6 separate regions of the Homo sapiens genome follow, and regions 1, 2, 3, 5 and 6 are each linked to region 4. Evidence: fine-mapped expression QTL. A gene starts in region 4. Each other region holds a variant in brackets. All regions are shown on one strand. Distances are from middle to middle. Region 1 holds the start of MMP23B (matrix metallopeptidase 23B). Region 2 overlaps SKI (SKI proto-oncogene). Region 3 overlaps NADK (NAD kinase). Region 4 holds the start of SLC35E2B (solute carrier family 35 member E2B). Region 5 holds the start of MIR429 (microRNA 429). Region 6 holds the start of CDK11B (cyclin dependent kinase 11B).

Region 1 (5,068 bases), 61 kb after region 4:
GCCCTCATTGACGGCGTTGGCGATGATGCTCAGGTGCGCCTCGCCCAGGGCCAGGTAGCCGGGGTAGGAGAACTCCAGGGGCTCCTGGTCCTTGTACCAGCTGCAGGGGGGCGGGGCGTCTCCTGCAGGCACAGCCCCCCCCCCGGCTGCCTGCCCCGCACCCCTGCCCCAAGGCCGCCCGCGGGCTGCCCACCCCGAGGACCGCCCGGGGCGCTCACTCACTACACTTTCCCTTTCTTGTGGAGGATCTTCTGGCCGCAGCGGAAGGTCACGTTCCTGCCCTCGGGCACCAGCCTGGTTTTGGTCCTGGGGGGCGGTGGGGTGGTGGCCACCGTGGGGAAGGGGAATTCTGCTCCGGGTGGGGGAAAGAGCCCCGTCAGTGCCCCCTCAGCCCCGACCATGGCCAAGGCCCAGCTCCCACGCAGCCCTGTCCCGGCCCCGTGGGCATCACCGTAGCAGAAGTCGCAGCTGCTGGGGCAGAGCCTCTTCATGAGCCGCCGGCGAGCGTCGCAGAAGCCCCTCCGCGCCCAGGACGCGCACACGAACAGCCTGTCGAGGCATCCTATCGGGAGCGTGGGGAGCACGGCCTGGCTCAGGACCGCCCGGTCCCCGCCCTCCCGCCCGACAAAGGGACTCACCGTAGAGCCGGTGCAGCCCCCACAGCTCGTCCTGGGACAACGCCTTCCAGCCGCGCAGCGTGGCGTTCAGGTGCATGAGCGCCCGGCCGTGTTGTGAGTGCATCAGGCCCAGCGCGTGGCCGATCTCGTGGGCCGCCACGTGCACCAGGTCCGTGAGCCACACGCCTGCGGGCCCCGGGGGTCAGCGCCTGGGAGCCCCGGGCCCAGCCCCGCCGCCCGTGGGCCAGCTCCCCGAGGCCCGGTGTATCTGCTGGAGCGCAGCCGCGGAGCCGCCCTCGGCCGCAGCCACGGAAAGATAAGAATGTTCTGGGCCCAGGCGGTGAGCTCGGCCCCCAGGAATGCAGCTCCAGCTCCCGCTCCAGAGGCGCAGGGGGATGGGAAAGGGAGTTCAGGGCTGCCGGGATGGGGGCTCCCACGGGCTCCCCTCCTTGCCTGCTAGACTCCAGTGGCAGCCACCACCCCGGAAGGTCCCTCCTGCCGTCTGCCCCAAAGCCCGACCGCGGCAGCCCACTGTGCTGCAGAGGAGAGGCCTCCAGGAGGCCAGCCTGGACGGTCACCTTTCTTCCAGCTGTAGCGCGTGGGGCCCAGGACCCAGTACTCGCTGTCGTCGAAGTGGATGCCGCCGTGCGGGGGGAAGAAGGCGTGGGCCAGCTCCCCCGTGGGGCCGTCGAAGCAGTGGTGCAGCGCGGAGACCAGGCAGTCCGTGTGGTTGATCGGGTAGAAGCCTGGGGGGAGCACGGGGCTGAGAGGCCGGGCGCGCAGGGCCGGGCCGGGGCGGGGGCGGGCGCCCACCTATCCGGAGGTCGCTGGGCTGCTCGGGGGCCACCTCGCGGAAGCTGAAGGGGGACACGTCGCTCCACATGCGGAAGGCGGCAGCTAGGGCCCGCCGCGTCTCCCGCGGGCTCAGCAGGTTCCGCGGGAAGGAGAGGATCCTGCAGGGAGAGTGAGCTCAGCGGGCGCCGGCCGCGCCCCCTCCCCCGGGGCCCAGCCAGGGCGCACCTGTAGGTGAGGTTGAAGTGGTCCCAGCGCAGCCTGGCTGGAGTCAGCGTGTAGCGGCGTCTGCGGGGGGCCAGTGGGCCCGGGACCCGGGTGGGGGGGACCGCCGAGAGGCCCAGCGCAGCGACGTCTCCCTTCAGGGAAGAAAGCGTGCGTGGGAGGCATCGGTGACGGTCCCCAGGACCAAAAACTGCCGCGGAAAATGGACTGGAAGGAAACGGGGGTGGGGGTGCCCAGGGCTGGGAGCGGGCGTGGCGGGTCCTGTCTGCCTGTGGTTTCGGGTCTCCTAACCTGAGCGCCCTGTTGCACGTCCCTGGGAACGCGGCCCAGTGGAGGGGAAGGGGCTGAACAGCAGGGCGAGGCCTCCCACCCCTCCCAACAACTGGACACAGGGGCGTCCAACCCTCCGACCTCGGGACGCACATCCGGACCCTCAAACACCCCGCACACCCCGCACACGTCCTGCGGGCCCCCCGATAGACCAGACCCACAGACGTGAGGACCCCCCCAACCCGGCACCTGGCCTCCCCCCCGCCGCTCACCTGCGCTGCGCTCCAGGCCGGCACCGCCGGGGCCCCCAGCCGGGCCAGCAGCACCAGCGCGGGGAGGAGGCACAGGGCGACCAGCGCGGCTCCAAGCCAGCGGCGCTCGACGCCTGCCCCCGGGGCCTCCGAGGGGACACGGGCCCCGCGGCCCATGGCAGACTTGCTGTGGGGCTCAGGGCTGCATGGGGCAGCAAGGCGCGGGGGCCCGGGCCGCAGAGCCTCCGGGGAGGATCCGGAGGGGAGGCAGTGGCTCGGCGGCTCGGGTTACAGCCCGGTGTGGTGGGGGGGAGGGAGACGGGGCGGGAGAGGGGGCAAGGCTGCCCCTGAAGGGAACCAGCTGGCCCGTCCGTTGGCCGAGCTGCCTGCTGTCTCCAGCCGGGGGCATGGGGACCCGCGTCCCGTGGGCCAGGGGCAGAGGCCTGGGCATGGCCTGCTGGGCGGGGTCCTCGGAGGGGGGAGCGAAGAGGGCCCCAGGCAGCCCGGGAAGGGCAGCGCCAGGGCTCCCGCTTAGGAAAGGGTAGCAGTGGGGGTCCCCAAGCCCCCACTGCTGGGCAGTGAGTGATCTGGTGGCTTTTTTCCCAAATGGAATCCTCAAAAAACCCCTGAGCCCCACATGAGCGGAGTCTCCATCCTGGCCCAGGCAGCTGAGCTGGGCCGCAGG[A/G]GACGCGTCGCTCGCCTGACAGTGTCCCCGAGAGCTGGGAGGGGATGGCCGGATGGGGACGTGGCAGTGAGTATGGGGCGGTGGAGGGGGAGGCGGGGAGGGGGTGCGTGGGTAGGCAAGGGCCGCGGAGGGTGCCAGGTTGCGGGGCGGAGGGAGGGAACTTGCCAGGGTCTCCCGGGGAGCCGGGAAGGGGCGGGCCCTGGCTGCGGGAAGCCCCGTGGAGGGTAGCGCGTGAGGTGGAGGGTGTGTGGCTCCTAAATCCCCGGCTAGGCCCCAGCAAAGGGGAGAGGGAGACGGGAGGGACGGGAAACGGAGCTAAGCGCCGGGCCTGGAGGTCTGGACCGGTCCTGATTGGGGGCGGGGGCGGGGAGCTCGGAGACCCAAAGGTTCGACGGGGCGGCCGGCGTCCAGGCGCGAGCGGCTCTGGGCTGGGACCGAGACCGGGCACCGGCGTCCCGCGGGGCGGGGGTGGGGGATTGGGCAGAGGAGCAGGAGATTCCGAGCCAGACCGGCCTGTGTCTGTCTCGTCCCTCCCCGTTTTCCGCGCCGGCGTCGGGCCCAGGGTGACGGCAGCCCGGCCAACGGGGTCAGCGCCAAGCAGCTGGCGGCGGCCGCGGGCGGTTCTTGGAAAGCGCGAGAGGCTGGGCCTGGCCGCCGTATTTGCTCCGACACCGCCCCCCGCCCCCCCAGCTCGTCACCCCGCCTGCGTGCGCCCGGCCCCCAGACCCTGCCTGGGACGCCCCCCAACTAACTCCCTGCTGGGACGGGACCCCACAGCCCTGGGGAGTGTCGGGCCCCTTGGATCAGAGCGCGAGTCCCCGCGGCCGCCCCCAGGACGGAAGAGCGAGGGGGGCCCGGGGGCAGACACAGGAGTCCCCGCCCCGTCGGACCCGGGCCTGGGGGGCGGGAGGCGGCCGTGCCCGCGCCTGGAGGGTGTCCTGGCCCGAAGGCCGCAGTCCGGGCGGGAGTCTGGACCCGAGAGCCTGGGGCGGGCGGGGCGGACCCAGGGAAGGGCCCCCCCCCCCTCGCCCCCAGGCTCGCCCGCGTGTCCCGAGGGGAGGACCCCAGAGGCGCCCGGTCCCCCAGGCAGACAGCAGAGGCAACGTCCGAGAATCTTTCTTTTTATAAAACACAGGGCGGGGGCACGCGAAGGCAGCTCGGGCGCGGCGGACGGCGCGGCTCACACGAAGATCTGGATGCGGTCGCGGATGGGCTGGCGGCAGATGGGGCAGGCGCTGAGCGCGGAGCCGCAGGGGGCGCATGCGCCGTGGCCGCACTGGAACACGAGGCGGATGTGGCTGTCGATGCAGATGGGGCAGGTGATGCGTTCCTCCATCTGCCGGTAGCGGCTCTGCAGCTCCTCCACCAGCTGGCGCGGCGGGCCGGGGGCGGGGGCGGCGCTCGCCACCTCAGAGCCGTCTGCGGGGTGGGGGACGGGTGTGAGCTGGGAGGCCGGGTGGGGGAATGCGGGGAGCAGGGAGCTGCGGGGGGGCGAGGCTGGGGGCGGGGTGTCACCTGGGACGGGTTGTGACCTGCAAGGGGGGCTGGCGGGGTGGGTGATTTGGAGGCAGAGGTGGGGCCCGGGTGCGGGCAGGAGGTGAGCCGTGGAAATCAGGCATAAGGTGGTGTGCGGGCTGGAGTCAGGGCTGCAGGTGGGCTGTGAGCTGGGCCGGGGTGTGATGGGGGGGCGGTGCTCTGGGTGGGCTGTGATCTGGGGTGGGGCTATGGAGGGAGTGTGATCTGGGAGGGGCCGTGAAATCCAGCGGGGCTGGGGTGTGATGGGGGAGGAGGGTGTTACCTTGAGGCGGGGCTGTGGGCCGGGTGTGATCTGGAGCAGGCGGGGCTGGGGGCTGGGGGCTGGGGGGCCGGGTGTGAGCCTTGGGAGGGCGGGGTGTAACCTGGGGAAGGGCCATGGGCGGAAGTGTGGGAGGGAAGGGGTGGGGGACGGGGACCCGCGGGCCACCAGCTGAGCAGGAGGCGTGTTGGGGGCGCAGAGCCTCACCCACCTGGGCGCAGTTTCTTGCTGACGACCACCTGGCACCTGATGCACTTCTTCATCCTGCGCGCGCACTCTGCGAAGAGGAGAGCGCGGTTGGCTGCGGCCCTACTAGCCGGGCCTCCCCACCCCGGGGCCCCCCACTCACCCTCACACACGGTGCGGTGCTGGCACGGCGAGAACAGCACCAGCAGCGCCAGCTCGGAGCACACCAGGCACTCAGCGGCCTCGG
Region 2 (5,068 bases), 600 kb before region 4:
GGTTCTTGGAAGGCTGATTCACCAAGAATCGGACTCAATTAAGAGTGTTTCGTAAGAGCGGCAGGAGGGGGTGACAATGCGTCCTGCCATCCCCGGCTTTACAGGACGGCTCCGCAAGCCCAACCCTCACCCAAGCGCTAGCTGGGGCAGAAGGGGCCCTCAGACCAGTGAAGTATCTCAGCAGGTGCCCTCTTCCTCCTCCTCCTCCTGCCTACAAGACCTCAAACCACAGAAGGCATCGCTTGCCCCCAGCGCTGGCCCAGACACACGGCAGCGCACAGAAAACTCTGGGGGAGCCCCTGATGAGGTCAGAAGCTCTGACGACCCCAGCCCACCCGCCAACTGTTGTTCTGGGGCTGGTCTCTCTCCCCTGGTGTCTGGAAGCAAAGGCCCTGGGGCCTCATCTCAGATGCCCAGAAACACGTGCAGCACCAAACAGCCAGAGAGGTGCTCAGGCTGAGCAGTGCAGGGTGGCGGCTGTGTCCCCTCAGTTCCCAAGTGTCCCGCACAGAAGGCTGGCCTACCCCCAATCAGCTCACATCCACACTGCAGTCAAGAGTCCCCATCACAGCCACACCCTCACAGCTGCTCCCTGCCTGTGCCCTGGAGGCCCTCTCAAGAGGCTGAGAAGTAGCCTCTTCCCAGGAGCCCCGGGACTTGCCTGGGGCAAAGGCTCTGCCGGGGGCAGCCCAGGGCTGCCCTGCCTGATCTCTTAAGACCAAGGACTCCACCCCTTACAACCAACATCACCCTTGCCTTACCGACTCCCTCCCCACTCTAGGAACATCCCTGACCAACAGGGACCCCCGGCGCCACACAAGAGGGCAAGGGTCTCTGTGCTAGGGCACAAACAGCCATCCTAAGACCTTGAGGAAAGACTCCAAGGAGGGGGCTGTGGAGGTGGCATGTCCTGGAGCAACGTGGCCTGGAGGCGCCTCCTGCACCCCCTCTGTGGAGTGGCAAGCACCCCATGCTCACCCTGGCCAGGCCACCCCTTCCCTCTGCCCAGTCAGCCCAGCCAGGTGCTGCCCAGAGGGAGGCCAGGCCAGCCAGGCTCTTGGTGGAAGAGGACAACCCCTTCTCTGCTGTTTCCAAACCTCATCAGGGACGTCAACCCAGATGCTGCTGTGGGGCCAAACTGAGAGCTGTGGTCATCTCAAAAGGCTGGACAAGAAGCACACGGTGGGCTCGGGGGAGGGGAGAGCCGCTACAGCCAGCCCCGGGAGCACGACCTGTGCTGCACCCCCACCCCCACGATCTTGGTTCTCCTGCCCTGCCCTGCACCCCCCCACCCCCACGATCTTGGTTCTCCTGCCCTGCCCTGCACCCCCACCCCGATCTTGGTTCTCCTGCCCTGCCCTGCACCCCCCCACCCCCACGATCTTGGTTCTCCTGCCCTGCCCTGCGCGGGGCTCGGGGTTGGTGTAGCTCTGCAGTGCCACATTTGATCTTAGAGGAGGGGCCTCACAAAGTGGCCACGTGGTGACCAGCCCTCGAAGACTGGCTGGCAGGAGAGGTGGCCTGTAATGGGCATCTGGCCGCCTGCCACCCTCACCGAAGAGGGATGAAGACAAACAGCCATGGCCACTGAGACAGGTGTCAAGTCCTGACAGAGAGGAGGCAGGAGGGCCACCTCCGGGTCTCTGAGCTCCCTGCCTAGAGAGGCTCAACATAACAGAGGAGCTGCATCTCTAGCCTCTGCCTTCTGTGTGCTTTCTCACCAACCACTGCTCCTCGGGGAGGGGCAGCTGGGTCCTGAGGGCCTGAGCCACCAGGTCTCCTGCAGAACATGACCTTCCCCCAGCTCCACTTCCCGGGTGGGTGCAGCAAGCTGACCACACTGACAGCTCAGTGACAGGTGCATGCGATTCGGGAAAACCAGGCGGCACCGGGGACCTGCAGGAAGAGCGAGGCAGCTCCCGTCACCTGGAGGGGACCTGTCACCCAGCAGGCCCAAGGGTGGCTTCTGTGCACACCACTGCAGGCCTCACACACGTGGCGGGGGGAGGGGGTAGTTTTTGGAAGAGGGGATCAAAGGATGAAGACGAACTTGGTACCTGAGACAAGGTCCCCACCCCCACTATCACCAGCCTGAGGGCACTGCCATGACCCCAAAAATGCCAGCAGGCCAACAACAGCCCACCTCAGGCTAGTTTCATCCATGTGTGGAGGTGACCCACAGACAGCCACTGCCAGCTGACTCTGTGGCCAACCAAGGCCACTCAGGACAAGGGAAGGGAGCAGAGAACACATCCCACGACTCCCAGAGCAAAACCACCTGGGGGTCTCACGCGCATGCAAACAAATGTGCACGCACGAGCAAAGACAACTGTCTGCCTCTGAAAAGAGCCACTCCCACAGGAAACGACGACAACCAATCGTGTTCTCACTCCTAACCTCAAAATAAAACCGAATTCAGGGATCGGAACATGTACCTTTAAGTAAACAGCCCTGCTGGGCACAGTGGCTCATGCCTGTAATCTCAGCACTTTGGGAGACCAAGTCAGGTAGATCACCTGAGGTTAGGAGTTAGAGACCAGCCTGGCCCATGTGGAGAAACCCTGTCTCTACTAAAAATACAAAAATTAGCTGGGAATGGTGGTGCACACCTGTAATCCCAGCTATTTGGGAGGCTGAGGCGGGTGGATCACCTGAGGTCAGAAGTTCGAGACCAGCCTGGCCCATGTGGAGAAACCCCATCTCTACTAAATACAAAAATTAGCCAGGCGTGGTGGCACACGCCTGTGATCCCAGCTACTTGGGAGGCTGAGGCAGGAGAATCACTTGAACCCGGGAGGTGGAGGTTGGGGTGAGCCGAGATCGTGCCATTGCAGTCCAGCCTGGGCAACAAGAGTGAAACTCCGTCTCAAGGAAGAAAAAAAAAAAAGAAAGAAAAGAAAAAAGACAGACGAGAAACAGCCCTGAAAGCAGCCCTTGAGTGCCAGGCCAGGGCCAGGAGCGCCCAGGGCTCAAGGCGGGGCTCAGGGCTCGGGGTGG[G/C]GCCGGAGGGCGGTGCCATGCAGGAAGCTGGTCCATCGGGGACACACTGGAGACCCCAGAAAGGAGCCTGGGCTCATCCCCCAAGGTGAGGGGAGATCCCTGGGAATCCATCCATCTCACGGCTGCCACAAGCCCTGTCCTTCTAGGGGGAGACCACCCCCACGCCCCACACAGGGAAGGTGACGCATGCAAGACCCGTCCACACCCCCCCTGCGGCAGACCCTCGTAGCCCACCTTGAGACAGAGACCACCCCCACCCACAGGCAGAGCACACCTACCACCAACACTGCTATTTGGACTTGGATAAAACATTTGGACATTATCCATCCTGGCTAACACAGTGAAACCCCGTCTCTACTAAAAATACAAAAAATTAGCTGGGCGTGGTGGCGGGCACCTGTAGTCCCAGCTACTCGGGAGGCTGAGGCAGGAGAATGGCGTGAACCCGGGAGGCGGAGCTTGCAGTGAGCCGAGATCGCGCCACTGCCCTCCAGCCTGGGCGACAGAGCCAGACTCAGTCTCAAAAAAAAAAAAAAAATTGGATATTTCCATTTCTCACCAAATTGGAATTTTTCCTGTCCAAGGCCAACACTCTCTCATCTTTAAAATCTAAAGAAACGCATTCCCAAGTCGCCTCCACCTTCCCACACAAAATGGCAGTCTCCAGGCGCCCTGGAGCCCCGCACGGCCCAGGGTCCAGAGCACAGGTGCACCCTGGGCCAGGGCACCCCGGGCGGGAGGGTGCGCAGGGGCCCTCTAGATTTTCGCCCAGAGCTGGCTGCTGTGGGGCCTGCAGCTGGACACTCACGGCTGGACCACCGGGTCTGGGAAGAAAACGCCCTCCACTCGTTACTTTTCCATCCAGAGCTGGCTTTGTGGGCACGCAGCCATGTCCTGGGCTTAACGCTCTGTCCCCATCATTGGCATTCTGAACAGTTTCACCTTTGATAAGATGTTCTTTTATAAGCAAAGTTCTCCGTGACCACAGAGCATGCATGAGCAGAGGTGGCACACGCCACATGCAAGCCCACTGCCATTCCCAGCCCGTGTAAAGAGCGTCCAGTGGAGGAGGTCGCGTTGGTCCCACCCAGTCACTTTCTCCCACTAGCCCACGACCGGAGCCTTGGGAGGGAGGGAGACAGGCGCCCACAGCCCCCACACGCAGTCTGTCCTCACTCAGAGCGAGAGCTGCGTGGCCACATGGGTGAGTTAAGCGAACTCCAACAGCCAGGTTCATTTTGGGCAGCGTTTGCCCTGATGTGGTAAGAATAAAATGCACACGCACTTTAATTATTATATTTGGGGTTCAAATCAAGAACTGTGCAATTTTGATGATTCCACAAGTTAAACACTCTTACATTTGCATTTTATGATTTTTTAAAGAGACAAGGTCTCACTCTGTCACCCAGGCTGAGTGCGGTAGCATCATCATAGTTCACTGCAATCTCTGCCTCCCAGGCTGCTCAAGTGATCCTCCCCTCTCAGCCTCTAGAGTAGCTGGGCCTACAGGCACACTACCACACCCAGCTAATTTTTGTATTTTTGTAGAGATGGGGTTTCTCCATGTTGCCCAGGCTGGTCTCCTGGGCTCAAGTGATCTGCCCACCTTGTCCTTCCAAAGCACTGGAATGACAGGAGTGAGCCACTGCACCCGACCTGCATTTGCGTCTTAAACTGGCATTACACAAGGTAAAGATGAACAGTAGGCTGGGCGTGGTGGCCCATGCCTGTAATCCCAGCACTTTGGGAGGCCAAGGTGGGTGGACGACGAGGTCAGGAGTTCAAGACTAGCCTGGCCAATGTGGTGAAACCCCATCTCTACTAAAAATACAAAAATTAGCCGGGTGTGGCAGTGCGTGCCTGTAGTCCCAGCTACTCGGGAGGCTGAGGCAGGAGAATGGCGTGAACCGGGGAGGCAGAGCTTGCAGTGAGCCGAGATCGTGCCACTGTGCTCCAGCCTGGGCAACAGTGCGAGACTCCGTTTCAAAAAAAAAAAAAAAAAAAAACCTTCTGGCTGGTGCGGTGGCTCACGCCTGTAATCCCAGCACTTTAGGAGGTCCAGATGAGCAGA
Region 3 (5,068 bases), 82 kb before region 4:
CACTAAGTTTTACATTCAAAAGTTCATTATTCTTGGCTCTTGATGGGAATACATTTCAAAACTCTTCTCTTCTTGTGTTCCATGTCTCTCTGACAGCCTTAGTTGGCCTGAAACTGACATGTTTGCCTTAATAAGTTTTTTTTTCCTCCTGATGTCATCTTGTCTAAGAAGCTAGTTACTTTAACACCTTGTTAGATAATTCCCTTCAAGTACTTATTCCCCTGAACATTGTCCTCTCAAGCCTCTGGAAATTTCCTGTCCCCTTGGAACTTCTCTGTAAGGCCTGTTTGCTCTCAGCAGTGACTTCACTGGGACTTTTGCAGCCACTTTATGGTGTTAGCACGCTGATTCCAAGCTACTTGAGGAATCACAGGTGCCACCGCAGTACCCAACAAAATAGCTTCATCATTTGGAGGTGTCCTCTCGAGATGTTTCTGTGTGTATATGTGTGTGTATGTTAGAAACAGGGCCTCACTCTGTCCTCCAGGCGTGTTTATGGTGGCATGATTATAGCTCACTGTAACCTCAAATTCCTGGGCTCAATTGATCCTCCCACCTCAGCCTCCTGAGTAGCTGGGATTACAGGCCTGCACCACCACACCTAGCTGATTTATAAAATTTTTTGTAGAGATAGAGTCTCACTGTGTTGTCCAGGCTAGTCTCAACCTCCTGGCCTCAAGAGATCCTCCTGCCTCCACTTCCCAAAGTGCTGATCTTACAGACGTAAGCCACTTTGACCAGTCTTTTTTTTTTTTTTTTTTTTTTAAGACAGAGTCTAGCTCTGTTGCCCAGGCTGGAGTGCAGTGGCACAATCTCGGCTCACTGCAACCTCCACCTCCCGGGTTCAAGTGATTTTCCTGCCTCAGCCTCCTGAGTAGCTGGGATTACAGGCGCCCACCACCACGCTCAGCTAATTTTTGTATTTTTAGTAGAGACGGGTTTCACTGTGTTGGCCAGGCTTGTCTCGAACTCCTGACCTCGTGATCAGCCCACCTTGGCCTCCCAAAGTGCTGGGATTACAGGTGTGAGCCACCACAGCTTGCCTCACTTGGACCAGTCTTTTTGTTTGTTTGTTTCATTTGAACTTGGAGGTGGGTTTATGTTGTTTCAGTTGGCAGCCTGCTGTTTGGTTCCAAAACAGCATTTTCTTCTTGAAACAACTGCTGTCAGCAGTTAGATTTCCAGGCTAGCACAAAAACCTGTTTGACTCATAAATCCTTGTAGTGAGGGTGTCCCAGAAAGTTGGCCAAGTCAAGAGCAGTTCTTGTGGAGTGGAGGCGGTGAACAAATAGGGGGAAAGTGGCGCTCGTGATGAAAACGGAAAACAATAGTTGATTTTATTGAGCTTCACGCTTGAGGAAATGTAGGTCTCACTTGGAAAATTAAGAGGCAGGTGGGTGTTTGCGGGACTCGACGGCCTTGCATCTGGATTACCTCCAGTCTGCAGGTGTGGTAGGATGACAGCAAGAGGGAGTGTTGAGCACACAAGCCCAGCACTTGGGGGGAGGCTGTGTCATGGCAGGAAGGTACAGGGCCTCCTCCAGCAGCTCCACTTTCTAGTCCGTATATACCTGTTGACAGTCACCGCCCAGCTTCAGCCGTTCTGGACAAGTGGGTGTCAGTAATGCTTTAGCTTGTAACCCCAGGATTTCATTTCTACTCTCTGTGCTGGTGGCTTATCATTTGCAATCTTTCCTGGCCCACAATTGCAAAGGTCCTAGCATTCATGCATGGGAATGGGGAAGTGAATAAAATGTGTGTGTGTGCTTCAGACAGATGGTGAAAAGTGTTCAGAGAAAAAGCGAAATTGAGGCAGATGGGATGTGAGGATGCCACGCACACTTTGTGCAACTGAAGAGGGAGGTGATGCCTGGCCTTCCCATTCAGAACTGCCCAGACCCCTGTTTTCTTCATCTGCCCCTAAGTAGGTGGAGCCACATCTAAAGAAAGCCCCCTTCAGACCTGTAATCTGCTTAGGTTTAATGAGGTCACAGGGTGAAGCCCTGTGGTCACATGGCTGTAGCACTTTCCAGAAAGTCTTTCTCAGTTTGTATACTGCCAGTGTGCATGCCAGCACTGGGCATTATTTACCGGGGTGAGATGAGATGGGTAATTTAGTGGGCAGTAAGTTTTTTCCCACTCAGGGTTGAGGTTGAATGTTTCCCCATTTCTGTCACTAAATAAATTTTCCTTTTTCATTTAGTCTTGCAACAAATATTGATTGAGTTCTTACATGGGAACGAACTCGTGTATTATGTTTGTATTTGTGTGTGTGTGACTTTTGTTCATGTTCTTTGCACATTTATTTATTGGCATCTTAATGTTTTCCTTGCTACTTTGTATAAGTTCGTTATGAATATTTTCTTATTGTGCTCTAGTATTTTTTTCTAATAAAACTTCCTAATACAGAGGATTTTTTTTTTTTCTTTGAGGCGGAGTCTCACTCTGTCCCCCAGGCTGGAGGGCAGTGGCGTGATCTCAGCTCACTGCAACCTCTGCCGCCTGGGTTCAAGCGATTCTCCTGCCTCGGCCTCCTGAGTAGCTGGGATGACAGGCGCCTGCCACCGCGCCCAGCTAATTTTTTTTGTATTTTTAGTAGAGACGGAGTTTCACCATCTTGGCCAGGCTGGTGTTGAACTCCTGATGTCGTGATCTGCCCGCCTCGGCCTCCCAAAATGCTGGGATTACAGTCGTGAGCCACCATGCCCGCCCTACAAAGGTTTTTTAAAATTAGATTCATGCTATGAGGAATTTGAATGCACTTTGGTGCAGCTAGCATTGTGTGTCCTTTTAAAGCAGTTAATATATCAAACAAATGAATTAAGTGTCAGTCCTGACTC[A/G]CCCTTGTCAAAAAATACAGTGGTGACCGCGCACGGTGGCCACGCCTGCAATCCCAGCACTGTGGGAGGCCGAGGCACAATGGTGGCCGCGCGCAGTGGCCACGCCCGTAATCCCAGCACTGTGGGAGGCCGAGGCATAATGGTGGCCGTGCGCGGTGGCGACGCCTGCAATCCCAGCACTTTGGGAGGCCAAGGCGGGCGGATCATCTGAGGTTGAGAGTTTGAGACCAGCCTGACCAACATGGAGAAACCCCTCCATGTTGGAGAATTAAGAGGCAGGTCTCCACTAAAAATACAAAATTAGCTGGGCGTGGTGGCGCACACCTGTAGTCCCAGCTACTTGGGAAGCTGAGGCAGGAGAATTGCTTGAACCTGGGAGGCAGAGTTTGCGGTGAGCCGAGATCGCGCCACTGCACTCCAGCCTGGACAACATCAGCGAAGCTCCATCTCAAAAAAACAAAAAATACACTGGTTGTGGTATTGGAGATACTTGTTAAATATATATATATGTGTGTGTGTGTGTGTATATATATACACACACACACATACATAGGTGAAGATAATTGTTTAAAGTTGGTTTTAATATTTAATATTATTTTATAAATTAGTTTACTGCTTAGTCATCAAATTGATCTTCGCAAATAAATATGAACAGAGCTTCTAGGCTGGGTGCAGTGGCTCATGCCTGTAATCCCAATGCTTTGGGAGGTCAACACAGGAGGGCCACCAGAGCCCAGGAGTTCAAGGTCAGCCCGTTCAAGGTAGCGAGACCCTGTCTCTACAAAAAATTTAAAAATTAGCTGGACATAGTGGCTCATGCCTGTAGTCTCAGCTACATGGGAGGATCCCTTAAGCCTGGGAGATTGAGGCTGCAGTAAGCTGTAATTGCACCACTGCACTCCAGCTTAGGTGACAGAGCAAGACCCTACCTCTCAGTCTCTCAATATCTCTATTTCTCTCTCTCTCTCACACACACACACACACACACACACACACACACACACACACACACACACACACAAAATAGAGCTTCTAGGTAATGTAGCAGTAATAATACATTTTTTTTAACATTTTGTGATTTTGATTTGTTTATTTTTTATTAATGTTTTTGTAGAGACGGGGTCTTGCTGTGTTGCCCAGGCTGGTCTCCAATTCCTGGCTTCAGGTGATTCCCCTGCTTCGGCCTCCCAAAGTGCTGGGATTACAAGTGTGAGCCACTGTGTCTGACCTTTATTAACTGTTTATTTTGAAATAATTGGCTGGGTGCGGTGGCTCACACCTGTAATCCCAGCACTTTGGGAGGCCGAGGCGGGCGGATCACCTGAGGTCAGGAGTTTGAGGACCAACCTGGTCAACATGGTGAAACCCCATCTCTACTTAAAATACAAAAATTAGCCGGGTGTGGCGGCGGGCACCTGTAATCCCAGCTACTCAGGAGGCTGAGGCAGGAGAATTGCTTGAACCCTGGAGGCAGATGTTGCAGTGAGCCAAGATTGCGCCATTGCACTCCAACATGGGGGACAAGAGCGAGACTTCGTCTGGGGAAAAAAAAAATAATCATAGACTAATTCATAGGAAGTTGTAAAAATAGTACAGAGAGACCCCTGTGCCCTTCACCAGCTCCCTCTGTGTTAACATCTTTTTTTTTTTTTTTTTGAGATGGAGTTTGGCTCTTGTTGCCCAGGCTGGAGTGCAATGGCGTGATCTCAGCTCACCGCAACCTCCCCCTCCCAGGTTCAAGTGATTCTCCTGCCTCAGCCTCCCGAGTGGCTGGGATTACAGGCATGCGCCACCACGCCGGGCTGATTTTTTGTATTTTTAGTAGAAACGCGGTTTCTGCATGTTGGTCAGGCTGGTCTCAAACTCCTGACCTCAGGTGATCCGCCCGCCTTGGCCTCCGAAAGTGCTGGGATTACAGGCATGAGCCACCATGCCCGGCCCTTGTGTTAACATCTTACACCTCCATACACCTCCATAGTACAATATCAAAACCAGGGAATTGAAATACTGCTAACTAAACTATAGACCTTATTCAGGTTTCACCAGTTTTACATGTGTGTATGGCTCTATGCAGTGTTACCTCTTAAATTAATTATATAACCACTAGCAAGACACAGAACTGGTCTTGAACTCCTGGACTCAAGCGATCCTCCCGCCTCGGCCTCCCAAAGTGCTGGGATTACAGGCACAAGCCACCACACCCAACTGTATTTTAATTTTCTTAACAG
Region 4 (5,068 bases):
TGCCTGTGATCCCAACTCCTCGGGAGGCTGAGGCAGAAGAATCTCTTGAACCTGGGAGGTGGAGCTTGCAGTGAGCCGAGATCGCGCCACTGCACTCCAGCCTGGGCGACAGAGTGAGACTCCGTCTCAAAAAAAAATAAAGGCCGGGCGTGGGGTAGCTCACGCCTGTAATCCCAGCACTTTGGGAGGCTGAAGCGGGCAGATCACAAGGTCAGGAGATGGAGAACATCTTGGCCAACATGGTGAAACCCTGTCTCTACTAAAAATATAAAAATTAGCTGGGCGTGAGGGCACACATCTGTAATCCCAGCTACTCAGGAGGCTGAGGCAGGAGAATCACTTGAACCCGGGAGGCGGAGGTTGCAGTGAGCTGAGATCGTGCCACTGCACTCCAACCTGGGCGATGAGAGCGAAATTCCATCTCAAAAAAAAAAGGAGTACTTTTTATAAATCTGCTTTTGAAATCATTTGGATACCACAGCGGCCCTGCTGACCACAACAGCTGAGACTGTTGGGCAAATCACCAGACATTTCTGGGTTTCCTGGAAAGTAGGAGAATCTACTTTGTAAACTGCTCTCAAATTTATGAACTCCGTGTGGATAGTGAACTCAGGCAGCAGGCAGGTGGCACTCCACTGCGTTAATTTCACTTCATTTTATAATTTTCTTTCTTCCTTTTTTTTTTTTTTTTTTTTTTGACGGAGTCTCACTCTGTCGCCAGGCTGGAGTGCAGTGGCCCAATCTTGGCTCACTGCAAGCTCTGCCTCCTGAGTTCAAGTGATTCTCCTGCCTCAGCCTCCCAAGTAGCTGGGATTACAGGCACGTGCCACCATGCCCGGCTAATTTTTTTTCGTATTTTTTGTAGAGACGGGGTTTCATCGTGTTAGCCAGGATGGTCTCGATCTCCTGACCTCGTGATCCGCCCGCCTCGGCCACCCAAAGTGCTGGGATTACAGGCGCGAGCCAACGCACCCAGCCTTTTTTTTTTTTTTTTTTTTTTTTTTTTTTTTTTTGTGAGACAAGGGTCTCACTCTGTCGCCCAGGCTGGAGTGTGGTGCTGTGATTCTAGCTCACTGCAGCCTCAAGCTCCCAGGCTCAAGCCATCCTCCCACCTCAGCCTCCCGAGTGGTTGGAACCACAGACACCATCGCTGCGCTCTGACCGGCTCCCGGGGGCGCTCCGTGCCCCTCCTCCTGCCCCACTCCTCTGGGGACATCCCCACCAAAGACCCCACGGGAGGAAACAGTCCCAGCCTCTGGCCCAACCCGGCTGCGGGCGCCACGGGGAAGCCTGGGGAAGGAGGCTGCCATCAGCCTCCTGAAGCTTTACGAAGGTTCATGCAACGGAAACAAAAACAAGTGGAAGTTTAACAAAACGTAAAAGTAATATTTATTTATTTATTTATTTATGAGATGAAGTCTCCCACTGTCGCCCAGGTCGGAGAGCAGCGGCGCTATCTCGCCTCACTGCAACCTTCAACTCCAAGGTTCAAGCGATTCTCCTGCCTCAACCTCCCGAGTAGCGGGGACCACAGGCACGCGCCACGAGACCCGGGTAATTTTTTTTTGTATTTTTAGTAGAGATGGGGGGGGGTTCACTATGTTGGCCAGGCTGGTCTCGAACTCCTGACCTCAGGCGATCCGCCCGCCTCAGCCTCTCAAAATGCTGGGATTACAGACGTGAGCCACCTCGCCCGGCCAAAAGTAATCTTTTCTTTTTTCTTTTGACAGGGAGTCTCGCTCTGTCGCCAGGCTGGAGTGCAGTGGCGCCATCTCGGCTCACTGCAACCTCCGCCTCCCGGGTTCAGGTGATCCTCCTTCCTCAGCCTCCGGAGTAGCTGGGATTACAGGCGCCCGCCACCACGCCCGGCCAATTTTTGTATTTTTAGTAGAGACGACGTTTTACCACGTTGGCCATACCAGGCTGGTCTCAAGCTCCTGACCTCGTGATGCGCCGGCCTCGGCCTCCCAAAGTGTTGAGATTACAGGCGTGAGCCACCGGGCCCGGCCCAAAAGTAATCTCTAAAGAGCCCTTTAGCCGTAACTTCATTCCTGAAAATTATTTGGGAAAGTAACGCTAGGAAAACGCTCGACGAAGCTCCGGAGCCGGGGGTCCTCGGGGCCGCAGGCGCGCCCGCGGGTGTCTGCTCCGGATGTCCCGCGGCAGCCCCGACGCCAGCCTGGATACGAAGGCCCCGCCCCGGAGCGCGCCACCAGCCAATCAGCGCCCTGAGGCGAGTCCTCACCCCGCGCGGCGGCCCCGCCCCCCGCAGCTCCGGGCCCAGCTGTCAGAGCAGCTTTCCCTCAGGCTGGGCGGAGCGTGGCCACTTCCGCCAGGAGGCGCCTTTGTGTCTTCTAAGTTAAGCCTATTCAGTGGATTTCTTATTCCTGGAACCCAAACCTGGGCAGTAAACCCTCCGGGGCTTAGAGGCCGCTGCCTCCACAGACTGGCCGATCCCGCCCTGAAGTGCCGCTGGTGGAACAGCCCGGGCGGAACCGCCCGGGCGGAACCAACGGGCTGCCGCGGGGGGTGGGGCCACGGTCCCCCCCCTTCTGCCTTCAGTGGAACGGCCCCGGCGGAACCAACGGGCCACGGGGATGCACTACGCGCACCGTCGTCCTCTCCCTCTGCCTGCAGTGGAACGGCCCGGGCGGAACCAACGTGCGGCCGCCCGGAGCACTCGGCGCGCCGTGTCCCTCCCCGTGTGGCTGCACTGCAACGGCCCGGGCTGGACCACCAGGCGGCAGCGGAGAGGCACTTAAAAGCCCCGTGTTACCCTAGACCTTAAAAAAAAAAAAAAAACTGCGTGTTTCCACCCCCGTCGGCCTGCAGTGGAAGGGCCCGAGCAGAACCAACGGGGGAGGGGACGCTGAGCGCGCCGTGTTTCTCCTCCCGTCTGCCTGGAGTAGAACGGCCCGGGCGGAACCAACGGGCAGCCGCGGGGGCGTTGTGGGCCGCGGCGCGTTTCCCCGGCTCCGTGGCTCTGGGGCACTGAGGAGCGGCGCCCGCGGGGCAGCGAGGAGCCCGATGCAGGGTTCTGCGCGTCATTTCCGGTCCCGCGGGCGCCCCGTGAAGCCCACCTGGATCCGCCAGCGCTGTGCCACTCCCCAGTGCCGAGCTCCGAGCTGTCTCCGCGGCCTCGCGCCCGGCCCCTCCACCGCGCGCCTCTCAGGCCCCGCCCGCCAGCGTCCCTTTGTTGTGAAGGCGCCGGGGCCTAGCGCTATGCCTGCGGCGGAGACTGCATCAGGCTCTCGGTGGGTTCTGCGTGCGGGGTGCTCTGCTCGGTGATCGGTGCTGGGTGCTGCGTGCTCGGTGCTCGGTGCTGGGTGCTGGGTGCCGGTACTGATGCTGAGTGTGCGGGCGTCCGGGGTTTCCCTGCCCGGATTCGCTCCTGGGGGTCCTTTCCTATGGCTGGCGCTGTGCGCGGAAAACGCTGGTGGGGTTTTCCCAGCTGGCTTTAAGCGTTTTCACGTCCGGGAGTCCACGGCGACCCCCACGCCCTGAAGCCTGGGAACGCGGTGTGCGTGGCCGCAAAAAGAACAACAACAACAAAAAAACACAAAACAAAACACGCAAAAAACTAAAGCAAAACTCCCGACAGCCGAGCCCCGTTCGGTGCCTTTTCTTTTTTTTTTTCTTTAATGGAGTGAAATCTACTTTGCTCAGGAAGCCTGCAAATCACATTTTCAGGCCAAACGAGGCAGTATTTTAGAAGGGGTCGCTGAGGCAGGAGTAGGAAGGCTTTCCACTCCACTCACGCATTTTCAGTGTAGGCGAATCGTAAAACGGAGGGCAGAACGAAAATGAGCGGATCTGGGAGTGCAGGCTGCGCTTCGTCCACATCGATAACAGATGTTTCCTGGTGAAGATGTGTAGGGCGCAGCGGGTCACCTGGTCGGGGGAGGGCACAGGGCGTCCCTCCACGGGGTGCCTTTGGCGTTGGGCACTTGTGTGGTCTCCAGCTTCCGGGTTTTGGAAGCGGAGTGTCCCCTGCAGCCTGAGCCTCTTGCAGGTGGTTTCCTTGGGACGAACTCCCAGGGGGAGGTCTGAGTTCTGGGGCATGGTTTGAAGATTTGGGACACATTTTGCCTGAAATTCCCTGCTGGCCGTTTGAACCCACCTGGACTTCCTGACCAGGGGCACGGATTCTTAACCTCTGGTGCAGGGGCCTGGCTAGGAGAGGTCTGCACAGTTGGACGAGGTGCAAAGTGACGCTTTGTCAGTAACCCGGCGTTGAGATTCCTGTGGTGGGACGAGCAGCTCCTATGGCTTTATCCCATTTTAAATCCAAGTTTTCTTTTCCTTCTAGTCCTCGGGCTCCACCCGGGGAGCTGTGCCCAGACAGCAGAAGGGAAGGATGTCACTTCTGAGATGAGGTTCAGAAAGGTCTGGGCTCCTGTCCTGGCTGCTCTCTCCCACTCCCTGATGAGCTTGCTGGATGAAAGCTCCTGTCAGGCTGTGGGGCGTCCTGTGGAGAAGCTGGCAAGAAACTGGTGGGGGCCCTTTCCACCTATAGCCAGCAAGGAACTGAACCCAGCCAGCGTCCACCTGAGTGAGCTCAGAGGTGGGCCTCAGCCCCAGTTGAGCCTTCGGATGAGGTCACAGCCCTGGTCCATGGTGTGACTGCAGCTTCAGGAGGGACCTTAAGCCAGAGGTGCCTGGCTAAGCTTCCCGCAGATTGCTGCCCCACAGGAGCCAACATCAAAAGCATTTGTTGTTTTGAGGTGGTAAGTGTGGAATGACTGTTACAGGGCAGTAGAGAAGGAGCATGCACCCTTCCTGCTTCTTATTTGCCTTTTAGAAATTGTCCTCTGTGAATCGCTTGAACCTGGGAGGTTGAGGTTGCAGTGAGCTGATATCTCACCACTGCACTCCAGCCTGGGCGACAGGAGCGAAACTCCTTCTCCAAAAACATAAATTCTTCTCTGTGAAATATGTTGTTTTGTTTTTTTTTTTTCTTTACTTTTTGAGACGGAGTCTTGCTGTGTCACCCAGGCTGGAGCAGGCGCAGTCTCAGCTCACTGCAACCTCCGCCTCCCAGGTTCAAGTGATTCTGCTGCCTCAGCCT
Region 5 (5,068 bases), 520 kb after region 4:
TATAGGCACCCCAGCCCGTAGGCGGCAGTGGGCTCTGGCATCCAGCTGGTCCCCCACCTCTGCAGGTGTTTGCAATGTACCCGTGTTGATGTAAGGCTGCCCTTTCTCCATCTCTGTGTGTCTTTGTTTAACCCTCACATTCTCTCTTTTTTTTTTTTCAAAATACGGAGTCTCACTCTTTTGCCCAGGCTGGAGTGCAATGGTACGGTCTCGGCTCACTGCAACCTCCGCCTCCCAGGATCAAGCAATTCTCCTGCCTCAGCCTCCCGAGTAGCTGGGATTACAGGTGCCCACCACAGTGCCCAGCTAATTTTTGTATTTTTAATATTAATTTTATTTTTTATTTTTATTTTGTTTTATATTTTATATATTTATTATTTTATATATTATTTTCTATATTATTATAATTATTTTATTATTAATTTATTATTAATTTTAGAGGGTTTCATCATGTTGGCCAGGCTGCTCTTGAACTCCTGACCTCAGGTGATCCGCCCGCCTCGGCCTCCCAAAGTGCTGGGATTACAGGCGTGAGTCACTGCGCCTGGCCTGCCCTCGCCTTCTCTTTAAAACACCTAATGATACGAGGTCTGGGAGTCCTGGGCTCCTGGCATGACCCATGGCACGGTCTGATCCCCTCTGCCTCAAACTCTGAGCCTCCAGCCACGTGTCCCCTACCCATCCGTGTCCTTCAGAGCTTTGCGTGGGTCACGAGGGCCTCTGTGCTTAGGGTCCCCTTGCAGGGGGCTGGTGGTGCCCCCAAAAGACAACCACATCATAGCCCTGAAACCTCGAATGTGACCTTATTTAGAAGAAGGGGCTTTGCAGGTGGGGTTACGTCAGGATCTCTAGTGACATCACCCAGGGCAGGCCCTGAATCAATGGCCTCTGCCCCCCTGAGAGGGAGGTGGAGAGAGGAGACGCAGACGTGGGGGAGACGCCGTGGGACTGGGGGGCAGAGATGGGTGACACGGCCACAGCCACTGATGCCTGAGCTGGCAGGGGCTGGGGAGGCAGACAGGGTCCTCTCCTGGAGCCCCCAGAGGGGTGCAGCCCTGCCTGCCCTGTGGCTTTGGAGTTCTGGCCTCCAGATGCGGGCGTAAGCGTCTGTTGTTGTGCCTGCCTGTGTGGTTTTTCAGCAGCCGGGAGGAGAAGCCACCCTTTCGAGAGTGTGGTGCCCGCTCCGGAGCCGCCTCCCCGACCCACGCCGGGGCGGCAGCCTGGGGGTTCCCCGCTCTGTGTCCCTGGGGCCTGAGCTGTGGGGGAAGAAGGGGCCCCGGCTGTCCCTGGGGAGTCCCTGGAAGGAAGAGAGAGCTCTCGGAAGCGGGGCGGTGGGGGGCGTCTCCCACCGTCCTCCTGGTTCTGTCCAGCTGGGAACAGTGTCCTCGTCCCCTCCCCGCACTCCCACCTTGCGCCTGGTGCTCAAGCTTTGAGATGGTCCCGCTGGACCCTGGTGCGGAGCAGACCCAGGAGGCCCCTCTGCCCTCTGGGAGCCTCAGGTCAGGTGGCAGGTGGGGCTGGGGCAGGTCCTGGGCTGAGTGGCTGGGCCTTCGGGGAGCAGGGCCCACTTGGTGGGGGTGACGGGTGGGGGGTTCCTTCGGTGGCTGCTGTGGCTCTCCAGGCTGGGAGCAGCAGATCCGGGTTCGGAAGCTCTGACTCTGGGAAGGGGCCTACGTGTGTCCCCTCCTCCCTGAGGCTGAGGCAGGTGGCCTGACAGGAGCTGATGGGGATGGGAAGGACTCGCCCAGCTCCTCTCCAGAACTGGCCCTTCCGGGAACAGAGCAAGGCAGGGTCCTTGCCCCTGGGCTGGGAGGGAGAGCCCCGTGTTCATCTTTGTGGCGCACCGGCCTTTGGAGGATGTGATCTGGACACACACCTCGGAGGACGGGTTTCCTTGTGTGGGGGGAGAGGGGGTGCAGCGGGCAGGTCCCCCAACCCCTGCAGCCTCCCCTCCCTGGGGCCCCACACAGGCCTGAGGACTCCCCACCGCCCTCAGAAGCCCCCAGGCTCCCCAGCCAGGCACTACCTCGTCCCTCACAGCTTTCCTGAGTTCAAACTTGAAAACTCTGCCCCTTAATCCCAAAATCTGGGTGGTGTGGCAGCCACGGATACCTGTAGCCCCAGCAAGGTTCCTGCGCAGGGCAGGTGGGAGCAGGACCTTGGGCCGTGGGTGTGCCCGGCCCGCGTGTCCAGGTGGGTGCAGCCCCCAGGGCCAGGCAGAATGGGGGAGGCCTGGCACCTCTCGGGCAGTGGGTGGGGTCTCCAGGCAGGCCAGGCCCTGCCACTGGAAGGGAGGTGGCCCCTTTGCCACCAACCTGTGGCTGTCACCGGGGCAGGTGTGGCTGGACCAGGAAGCCCTCCTGGCTGGCGCCTGGCTGCCTCCATCCTGTCCGCAGCCCTCGCTCCTGCTGGCCGGCACCATACGCTCTTGG[T/C]CACCTGCTCAGAGAGGCCCCCCAGGGCCACCGGCTGCCCCCTCGGTAGCTCCCTTCAGCACAGGCTGAGGTGTCTCCACTCAGGGACTCCCCCTTCCCCCAGAACCTTGACCTGAGCTGACCACAGGAGAGTCAGGGAAGATTCCTGAGCAAAAGAAGGAGGGAGGGAGGGACGGAGAGAGGAGGAGGAGGGAGGAGGGGGAAGGAGGGATGGAGGAGAGGAAGGAGGAGGGGGAGGGAAAGAGGAGGGAAGGGAGGGAGGGAGCCTCTCCCAGGAACCTTGGGGGCCTCCGGGGCCGGATGCAGTGTCTGGGGTTCTGTCCTCAGCTGGGCCCTTTGCACGGCGGGGGTCTGTGCACGTGTGGTTAAAATAAGGAGCTGGTCCAAGCATGGGTGCGTGAACTGCAGACTTTATTACTATACAAAGACTTTTTTCTGTTTTGTTCCCGGTGCTTATGGAGAGGAGGAGGAGGAGGAGAAACCGCACAGGGAGGCTCTGGGTACGGCCCCGCCAGCCCCAGCAGGGTCCTTCCTGTCACACCCCGTGCAACGCAGCAGGCGCTGTGGAGAGTGAGCCCCACTGCAGTGTGGGGCGCAACTTCATCCGAGGGGTGCTTGGAGGGACTGGCCAGACGGGCACAGCGGTGAGGAGGTGCTGGGATGGGGAAGGTCCCCGAGCTCCGGGCGGTGTTGGATGAGCTCAGGCTCACAGGTGTGGCCCTGCCTGGCCCGAGCTCTCCAGGTGTGTCCAAACCTTGTGTTATATGCACCTTGCAGTCCAGGGCTCACCCGTGCGGTCTGGTGAGGTGGACGCCACATTCTGGGGGTGGCACTCCAAGTTCTTCCCCACACACGTCGCTCAGGCGGCAGCAGCATGGGGGTGGTTTCAGCTGGCCCTGCGGGGGACTGCCCCATCTCCCCAGGGAGGAAAGAGGGTCTGGAGATAGCCCCGGGTGGGGGAGGTCAACCTGCAGATCCCGGCTTGGGGACAGCTCCAGATGACACCTCGTGAGCCGCCTGGGGTGGAGGGGCCCCCAGTGCAGGGCTGCGTGGCCCCAAGCACCTGCCTTCCCTATCCCATGGTCTTGCAGCTGGGCACCGGCCCCGCCCGCCTCAGCCCCAGAGATGGGCCCTGGAGGGAGAGTGTGGTCTGCATCCCACGGCTGGCCCCTGGAGGAGGAGGGCCAGGGCTGGCCCCGGGAACCTCCCAGAGGTCTCTGCGTCCTGCTGCCTGGCCGCTGAGACGCTGTGACATTGTCCCTGCTGGGCATTTGTGCTCCTCCGTGCCCTGGGCTCAGGCACTTTGGGGGGCCCAGCTGCTTCTGTCTCAGCCTCCCCAGGTGGCGAGGGGGCTGGGGCTGTGGGGTGGGGCTCCGGGTATCTGTGACTGTGACCCCAGGGGCCAGGCTGATAGCACGGGGTCCACAGCATCTGCCCGGGGACTACAGCTCGAGGGCCCCAGGAGGCCGGGTGGGCACAGGCCATGGCGAGGGTGGGGCACAAGAGCCCCAGACCCCGGCGGCTTTGCACTGATGGGCTGCGGATGGGCACAGGCCATAGTGAGGGGGGCATGAGAGCCCCAGACCGGGCGGCTTTGCACTGATGAGCTGCAGGGCAGGCAGCTCTCTCCTCTAACGGTGATCAGGCAGCGGATGGACGGTTTTACCAGACAGTATTAGACAGAGGGCCAGGTCTAACCATGTCTGGTAAGACGCCCATCGGCCGGCGGTGGTGTGGGTGGCCTCCGGGTCCTGGGCTGGTGTCTGCGGGGCCTGTGAAGGGAAGGCCCCGGGGGCGGCTCCTGCCACCTCCTGCAGCTGCCCTGATCCCTCCTGGGTCTGCAGAACGAGCCCCCGAGGCACTTCCCTGACAGCCCCCATCCCAGCACCTGGTCCCAGCCCAGCCTGGCTGTGTGGGGGTACCCGGGAGCCACCTGGTCACCCAGGCCCTGCTCTTGGCAAAGGTTCCCTGCAGCCCCTCGCTGGCTTCCTGAAGCTCGGTCGGGTTAATGAGTAACAGTGAAGGGCAGCCTCTCCCCGGTGGCTGCCCCCTCCCCAGGCTGGGGCCTTGTGTGGGGGTGCGGTCCCAGGCGCCCTGGTTGCAGATGGAAAAGATGAAACAATGGGTCATCCTGGCCTGGTGGGTTTTGGACAAAGTTCCTGTTCTTGTTGACTGGGGGAAGGAATGAGACCCCTTGTCCCTCAGAGGGCAAGCGCAGAGCGTCCCCGCTCCCCTGCATGGTGGGGCTCGGGAATCTGAACCCACCTTGTCCTTCCTGCGCCCCCAGCAGACCCTCCACGGAGCCCGGACCACGTGAGAGAGGCCACTGTTGCTCTTCCCTCTCCAGCCCTGGCATCCCAGCCCTATGGCCTTTCCTGGAGCCAGGTCACCCTAAAACCCAGCCTGGGAGGTTGGGTGGGGGAGGCACAGCGGCTCCGGGAGGGGGAGCAGGATGCCCTCCAGGCCACCTGTGGAGGCACCAAGGGGTCCTCAAGGTGTCAGACCCAGCCTGGGCGTGAGTGACCCCGGGGGCACCCCCGGCAGAGGCCGGCCCCTCCCCTGGGGGCTGGACTTCGGAGCTGACACAGGCCCTCTGCCGCCCGCTCAGCCCTCCGCCCTCACCCGTCTGCTGGCCC
Region 6 (5,068 bases), 36 kb after region 4:
TTCAGAGTTAAATTCCGAGATCGGCCTTTACAAGACACACAGACCTGAGGCGCCTCACGAGGTAACCAGCAGGTAAATGGAGCGCGCTCCACCCACCCGCCACTAGGGGTCCCAGCGGTCAAGGGGGTGGAATGCGGGCGTCCATCGCGAAGGCATTCTGCTCGCAAGCCTTGGCACAGGCGCGGGCTTCGCTACCGGAAAAGTCCCGGTAGGATTCCGGAAGCCGGCCACGCGTTCCGCGCAGGCGCAAACTGCTCCAAAAGTGGGCGTCGCTCCTCCGGAGTCCCGATTCCTGCGTCACAGCCCGCGCCGAAGTCGGAAGTGCGCTCACCGGGCTGTTTCTTCTGGCGTCCTGGACCTGAGCAAGCGCTGTTTTATGCGTTATCATCCCGCGCAGACACAGGAAGTGCCGCACAGAGCGAGCCCCTGTCGTTGTCTCGAGTTCTGGGCCGGAGGTCGGCTATTATATCATCATTACGCGCCAATACAGGAAGTGACGATACTTTTGGCGCGCGCCGGTTGCTGTTTCTTCTCTGGCTCCGGGACCGGCGGCGGCGGCGGCGGCAGCGGCGGCGGCGTAGGGGTGAGTTCCGACTGGGCGGACCAGGTGTGGGAGCGCGAGGAGAACTGCGCACCGAGGTCTTTCTTCCGAGCAGGCCTCGGAGCGGGGCGGACCCGGGCCCGGGGGCGAGCGACACCCTCGCTTCCGCGGACAGTCTCATCCCGCACGGAACTTTGGGTGGTGGAGGCGGCGGGTCCAAACGCTGTCTGGAGCCAACGTCTGCCAGGCTGAACCTCAAGTGTGCGGGACTGAACCCGAGGAAATAGCCCAGTGCCCGGGTCAGGTGGCCTTGTTCGCGAGCACATCTCGGAGCATCTCCCCGGTCTCAAGGTGCAGCTGTCCAGTGTGCTAGTGGCTTCACGTAGTCCAAGCGGTCTTTCTAGCAGATTCTGACAGTAAAAGCAGTGTTTGATGAGTGGCAGGTCCTGAGTTAAGAGCCTTTAAACGGATGATCTTTAATCCGCGATCGATACTATCACGTAGGTGTTGTTATTCTGGTTGTACGGAAGACTAAACTGAGGTGAATTACGTTACCCAAGACCATACAAGAATGACAGAAACGAGACTTGATTTCAAGCGGTCATTTTTCAGAACCCATCACTCTTTTTTGTCGCCCATGCTGCAGCGCAGTGGCTGTTCACAAGCGCACTTCAGCCTGGAACTCCTGGGCTCAATCGGTCTCCCATCTCAGCTTGCAGAGTATATGGGACTACAGGCGCTCGCCACCTTGCCTGGCTTACAACTTATCATTCTTGTTTTTTTTTCTTTTTTTTTTGAGACGGGGTCTTGCTGGAGTGCAGTGACGCGACCTCGGCTCACCGGAACCTCCGCCTTTCGGATTCAAGCGATTCTGCTGCCTCGGCCTCCCGAGTAGCTGGGATTACAGGCACCCGCCACCACGCCCAGCTAAGTTTTGTATTTTTAGTGGAGACAGGGTTTTCGCCGTGTTGGCCAGGCTGGTCTTGACCTCCTGACCTTGTGATCCACCCGCCTCAGCCTAGAGCTTACTTTTTTTTTTTTTTTTTTTTTTTTAACCAAGTCTTACTTTGTTATCTAGGCTGGAGTGCAGTGGCGCAGTCTTGGCTCATTGCAGCCTTGACCTCTCTGATTCAAGTGATCCTCCTGCCTCTAGCAGCCTCCTTCCTGTAGCTAGGAATACAGGCACGCGCCACCACACTGGGCTAACTTTTGTATTTTTTGTAGAGACGAGGTTTTGCCATGTTGCCCGGGCTGGTGTTGAACTCCGGAACTCCAGCGATCTGCTCGCCTCGGCCTCCCAAAGTGCTAGGGTTACCGTCTTGAGCCACTGCGCCGGGCACAACTTCTTATTCTTAATGAGGATTTATTCTGAATCCCTCAAAAGTGACTAGGTTCAAGTGTTCAGCACCATAGCTTGCTGTGTCCTGATGTAGGCTGAATTATTTTTCTTTTTGCAGTGTTTTAACTCAAATGGGTGATGAAAAGGACTCTTGGAAAGTGAAAACTTTAGATGAAATTCTTCAGGAAAAGAAACGAAGGAAGGAACAAGAGGAGAAAGCAGAGATAAAACGCTTAAAAAATGTAAGCCATATTTTTTAAGTAAGTGGTTTTCTTAAAGGAGATTTAATTTCTTTGCCCTCATTTTTCCATTAGAACAACGCTTCTTCGGTGAAGTTCTTTTGTACTTCCAAATGTCGCAGGTGAGCCCAAAATCTATTCTAAAAATTAACAAAAACATTCAAATATTCAGTTGACATTAAAGGCAGATTTAACACACTAAAGCTGTGTCTAGATTGAGCATACATGGAGAATAAAATACGTTGAATGTTAAGTCATTAGCAAAACTGGACTAATTTTTCTCGGTTCATTAGTATGTTCATAATACTATCTCTAAGTATTTTTAATATAGTGGGAACTTGCCTTGAAATTAATATAAATATTTTACATCTTTCTTGGTTTGCATGGTAATGTACTCAGGAAACCTTTTTAGTAATTTGGTAAGAGGCATTGGCAAAGTACCTCTTTTGCTAAGATCTTTAGCAGCATCATTTGGGATGTTAGTGAGTACAGGCATACCTTGTTGTATTGCACTTCACTTTATTATGCTTCACAGATATTGAAATTTTTCCAAATTAAAGGTTTGTAGCAACTCTGCATTGAGCATTTTTCCAATAGCATGTGCTCACTTTGTTAGCTTTTTTTTTGTTTTTGAGACGGAGTCTCGCACTGTCGCCCAGGGCCGGGTTCACGCCATTCTCCTGCCTCAGCCTCCCAAGTAGCTGGGACTACAGGGGCCCACCAACATGCCAAGCTAATTTTTTGTATTTTTTAGTAGAGATGGGGTCTCACGGTGTCAGCCAGGATGATCTTAATCTCCTGACCTCATGATCCACCCACCTCGGCCTCCCAAAGTGCTGGGATTACAACAGGCATGAGCCTCCGCGCC[C/A]GGCCTTTTTTGTTTGTTTTTGAGACAGTCTTGCTCCATTGCCCAGGCTGGAGTGCAGTGGCATGATCTCAGCTAACTGCCACCTCTGCCTCCTGTGTTCAAGCAGTTCTCCTGTCTCAGCCTCCTGAGTACCTGGGACTACAGGCACCTGCCAGCACGCTCGGCTAATTTTTATATTTTTAGTAGAGACGAGCTTTCACCTTGTTGGTCAGGCTGGTCTGGAACTCCTGACCTCAGGTGATTCACCTGCCTCACCCAGCCTCCCAAAGTGCTGGGATTACAGGCGTGAGCCACCATGCCTGACCTAAACCAAACTTTTATATGCGTTGGGAAACCAAAAAATCTGTGTGACTCACTTTATTGTGGTGTTTTGGAGCCAAACCCAAAATATCTCCAAGGGATGCCTGTACCATATGAGGTATCACAAAGTATTTGGTTTGCAAGATACGCCTTAAGATTCATTTTTGGCTCATATAAGCAACTAACATACTTGGCATAGAGTCTAATGTCCCTTGTCATATATGCTATTTTTAAATTTCTCATCTCAGGTTTCAGATTACAGAGAGTTGTAATTTTAATGTGATAAGATTTGAATTAAAGTTTGTTTGTTTGTTTGTTTGTTTTCCCTGATACGGAGTCTAACTCTGTCGCCAGGCTGGAGTGCAGTGGTGTGATCTCGGGTCACTGCAATGTCCGCCTCCCGGGTTCAAGCAGTTCCGGTCACTACGCCCAGCTAATTTTTGTATTTTTAGTAGAGATGGGGTTTCACTGTGTTGTCCAGGGTGGTCTCGAGCTCCTGACCTCGTGATCCGCCTGCCTGGGCCTCCCAAAGTGCTGGGATTACAAGCGTGAGCCACCACACCCGGCCAAAAGTTCTTTATATTTTATAACACTGGCTCATTCAGAGTATATATGAAAGTTTGTTTTGGGATGTTGCCCAGGTTTGATTATCATTAAAAATACTTTTATCTATGAAGAAAAAAAAACTTATAAAGAAAATGATTAACTTTCTCTTTGCTTCTTAGTCTGATGACCGGGATTCCAAGCGGGATTCCCTTGAGGAGGGGGAGCTGAGAGATCACCGCATGGAGATCACAATAAGGAACTCCCCGTATAGAAGAGAAGACTCTATGGAAGACAGGTGAGCGGATGTACAGATGTGCAAGACCCAGCTGTACACAGCCCTGGCCTGGCCGGTCCTTCCTAGGGTCGCTGTGACAACTGTGTGCTGTTGTAACTATTAAGGTTTACTCTTTCCTAGAGTTACTGTGACATAGCGTAACTATTGAGGTTTTTATGTCACAGTTGTGACTGACTCTCAAGTGTTGTCTGTGGCCCTCCAGACCCTTGCCCCTTCTTTCTGTAAAGAACTTTGCCATGTGTTACACTGATTAATAAAATATACTATATAGGATTTTGCACAGGCCAGGTGTGGTGGCTCACACTTGTAATCTCAGCACTTTCGGAGGCCAAGGCGGGCTGATCAGCTGAGGTCAGGAGTTCGAGACCAGTCTAGCCAACATGGTGAAACCCCGTCTTAAAAGGAAAAAAAGGCCGGGCGCGGTGGCTCACGCCTGTAATCCCAGCACTTTGGGAGGCCGAGGTGGGCGGATCACAAGGTCAGAAGATCAAGACCATCCTGGCTAACACAGTGAAACCCCGTCTCTACTAAAAATACAGAAAATTAGCCGGGCGTGGTGGCAGGCGCCTTTAGTCCCAGCTACTCGGGAGGCTGAGGCAAGAGAATGGCGTGAACCCAGGAGGTGGAGCTTGCAGTGAGACAAGATCATGTCACTGCACCCCAGCCTGGGCGACAGAGCAAGACCCCGCCTCTAAAAAAAAAAAAAGGAAAAAAAAGATTTTGCACAAATAAAGTAGAATGCTGAAAGATACCTGAGGAGGGCCGCTGATGAGAAATGTTCATATTGGCCGGACGCGGCAGCTCACGCCTGTAATCCCAGCACTTTGGGAGGCCGAGGCAGGCAGATCACTTCAGCCCAGGAGTTCAAGACCAGCCTGGGCAACACAGGGAGACCTCGTCTCTACACAAAATAAAAAAAAGAAGATGAGAAAAACTAAAT

What was found.
Region 1: its variant is fine-mapped to the expression of SLC35E2B in monocytes (Schmiedel 2018, PIP 0.95).
Region 2: its variant is fine-mapped to the expression of SLC35E2B in ileum (GTEx, PIP 0.99).
Region 3: its variant is fine-mapped to the expression of SLC35E2B in whole blood (TOPMed, PIP above 0.99).
Region 5: its variant is fine-mapped to the expression of SLC35E2B in whole blood (TOPMed, PIP above 0.99).
Region 6: its variant is fine-mapped to the expression of SLC35E2B in whole blood (INTERVAL, PIP above 0.99).

Annotation. Positions count from the first base shown.
Region 1 is chr1:1,629,483-1,634,550 of GRCh38, reverse strand. MIB2 (MIB E3 ubiquitin protein ligase 2) reads right to left here. Exons shown (of 20, transcript NM_001170687.4): 18 at 4,985-5,068; 19 at 4,847-4,912; 20 at 3,946-4,259. The coding sequence ends at 4,021. It overlaps MMP23B (matrix metallopeptidase 23B), which reads right to left and starts at 2,378. Exons shown (of 8, transcript NM_006983.2): 1 at 2,177-2,378; 2 at 1,638-1,768; 3 at 1,431-1,570; 4 at 1,196-1,363; 5 at 639-803; 6 at 452-562; 7 at 223-349; 8 at 1-100. The coding sequence starts at 2,332. It overlaps LOC124903821 (a long non-coding RNA gene), which reads left to right and starts at 2,765. Exons shown (of 3, transcript XR_007065352.1): 1 at 2,765-2,906; 2 at 3,976-5,068. RefSeq lists enhancers at 860-1,671, 3,772-4,335 and silencers at 3,825-3,974, 4,075-4,324. The variant A/G (reference allele first, on the strand shown) is at 2,841.
Region 2 is chr1:2,285,806-2,290,873 of GRCh38, reverse strand. The region is part of intron 1 of SKI (SKI proto-oncogene); the gene reads right to left. Among named protein-coding and RNA genes, the nearest start is that of SKI, 60 kb to the right of the region's middle. The variant G/C (reference allele first, on the strand shown) is at 2,998.
Region 3 is chr1:1,772,470-1,777,537 of GRCh38, reverse strand. The region is part of intron 1 of NADK (NAD kinase); the gene reads left to right. Among named protein-coding and RNA genes, the nearest start is that of NADK, 3.5 kb to the left of the region's middle. RefSeq lists an enhancer at 2,929-3,430. The variant A/G (reference allele first, on the strand shown) is at 2,841.
Region 4 is chr1:1,690,635-1,695,702 of GRCh38, reverse strand. It overlaps SLC35E2B (solute carrier family 35 member E2B), which reads left to right and starts at 2,908. Exons shown (of 10, transcript NM_001290264.2): 1 at 2,908-3,254; 2 at 4,310-4,727. RefSeq lists silencers at 2,435-2,514, 3,085-3,244 and an enhancer at 3,079-3,373.
Region 5 is chr1:1,168,097-1,173,164 of GRCh38, reverse strand. It overlaps MIR200BHG (MIR200B, MIR200A and MIR429 host gene), which reads right to left. Exons shown (of 2, transcript XR_007065348.1): 2 at 2,827-5,068. MIR429 (microRNA 429) reads right to left here and starts at 4,160; the gene lies at 4,078-4,160. TTLL10-AS1 (TTLL10 antisense RNA 1) reads left to right here. Exons shown (of 2, transcript NR_173246.1): 2 at 1-109. RefSeq lists an enhancer at 1,792-2,359. The variant T/C (reference allele first, on the strand shown) is at 2,433.
Region 6 is chr1:1,654,429-1,659,496 of GRCh38, reverse strand. CDK11B (cyclin dependent kinase 11B) reads left to right here and starts at 493. Exons shown (of 20, transcript NM_033486.3): 1 at 493-583; 2 at 1,999-2,122; 3 at 4,013-4,128. The coding sequence starts at 2,012. RefSeq lists enhancers at 107-386, 407-496, 1-650. The variant C/A (reference allele first, on the strand shown) is at 2,988.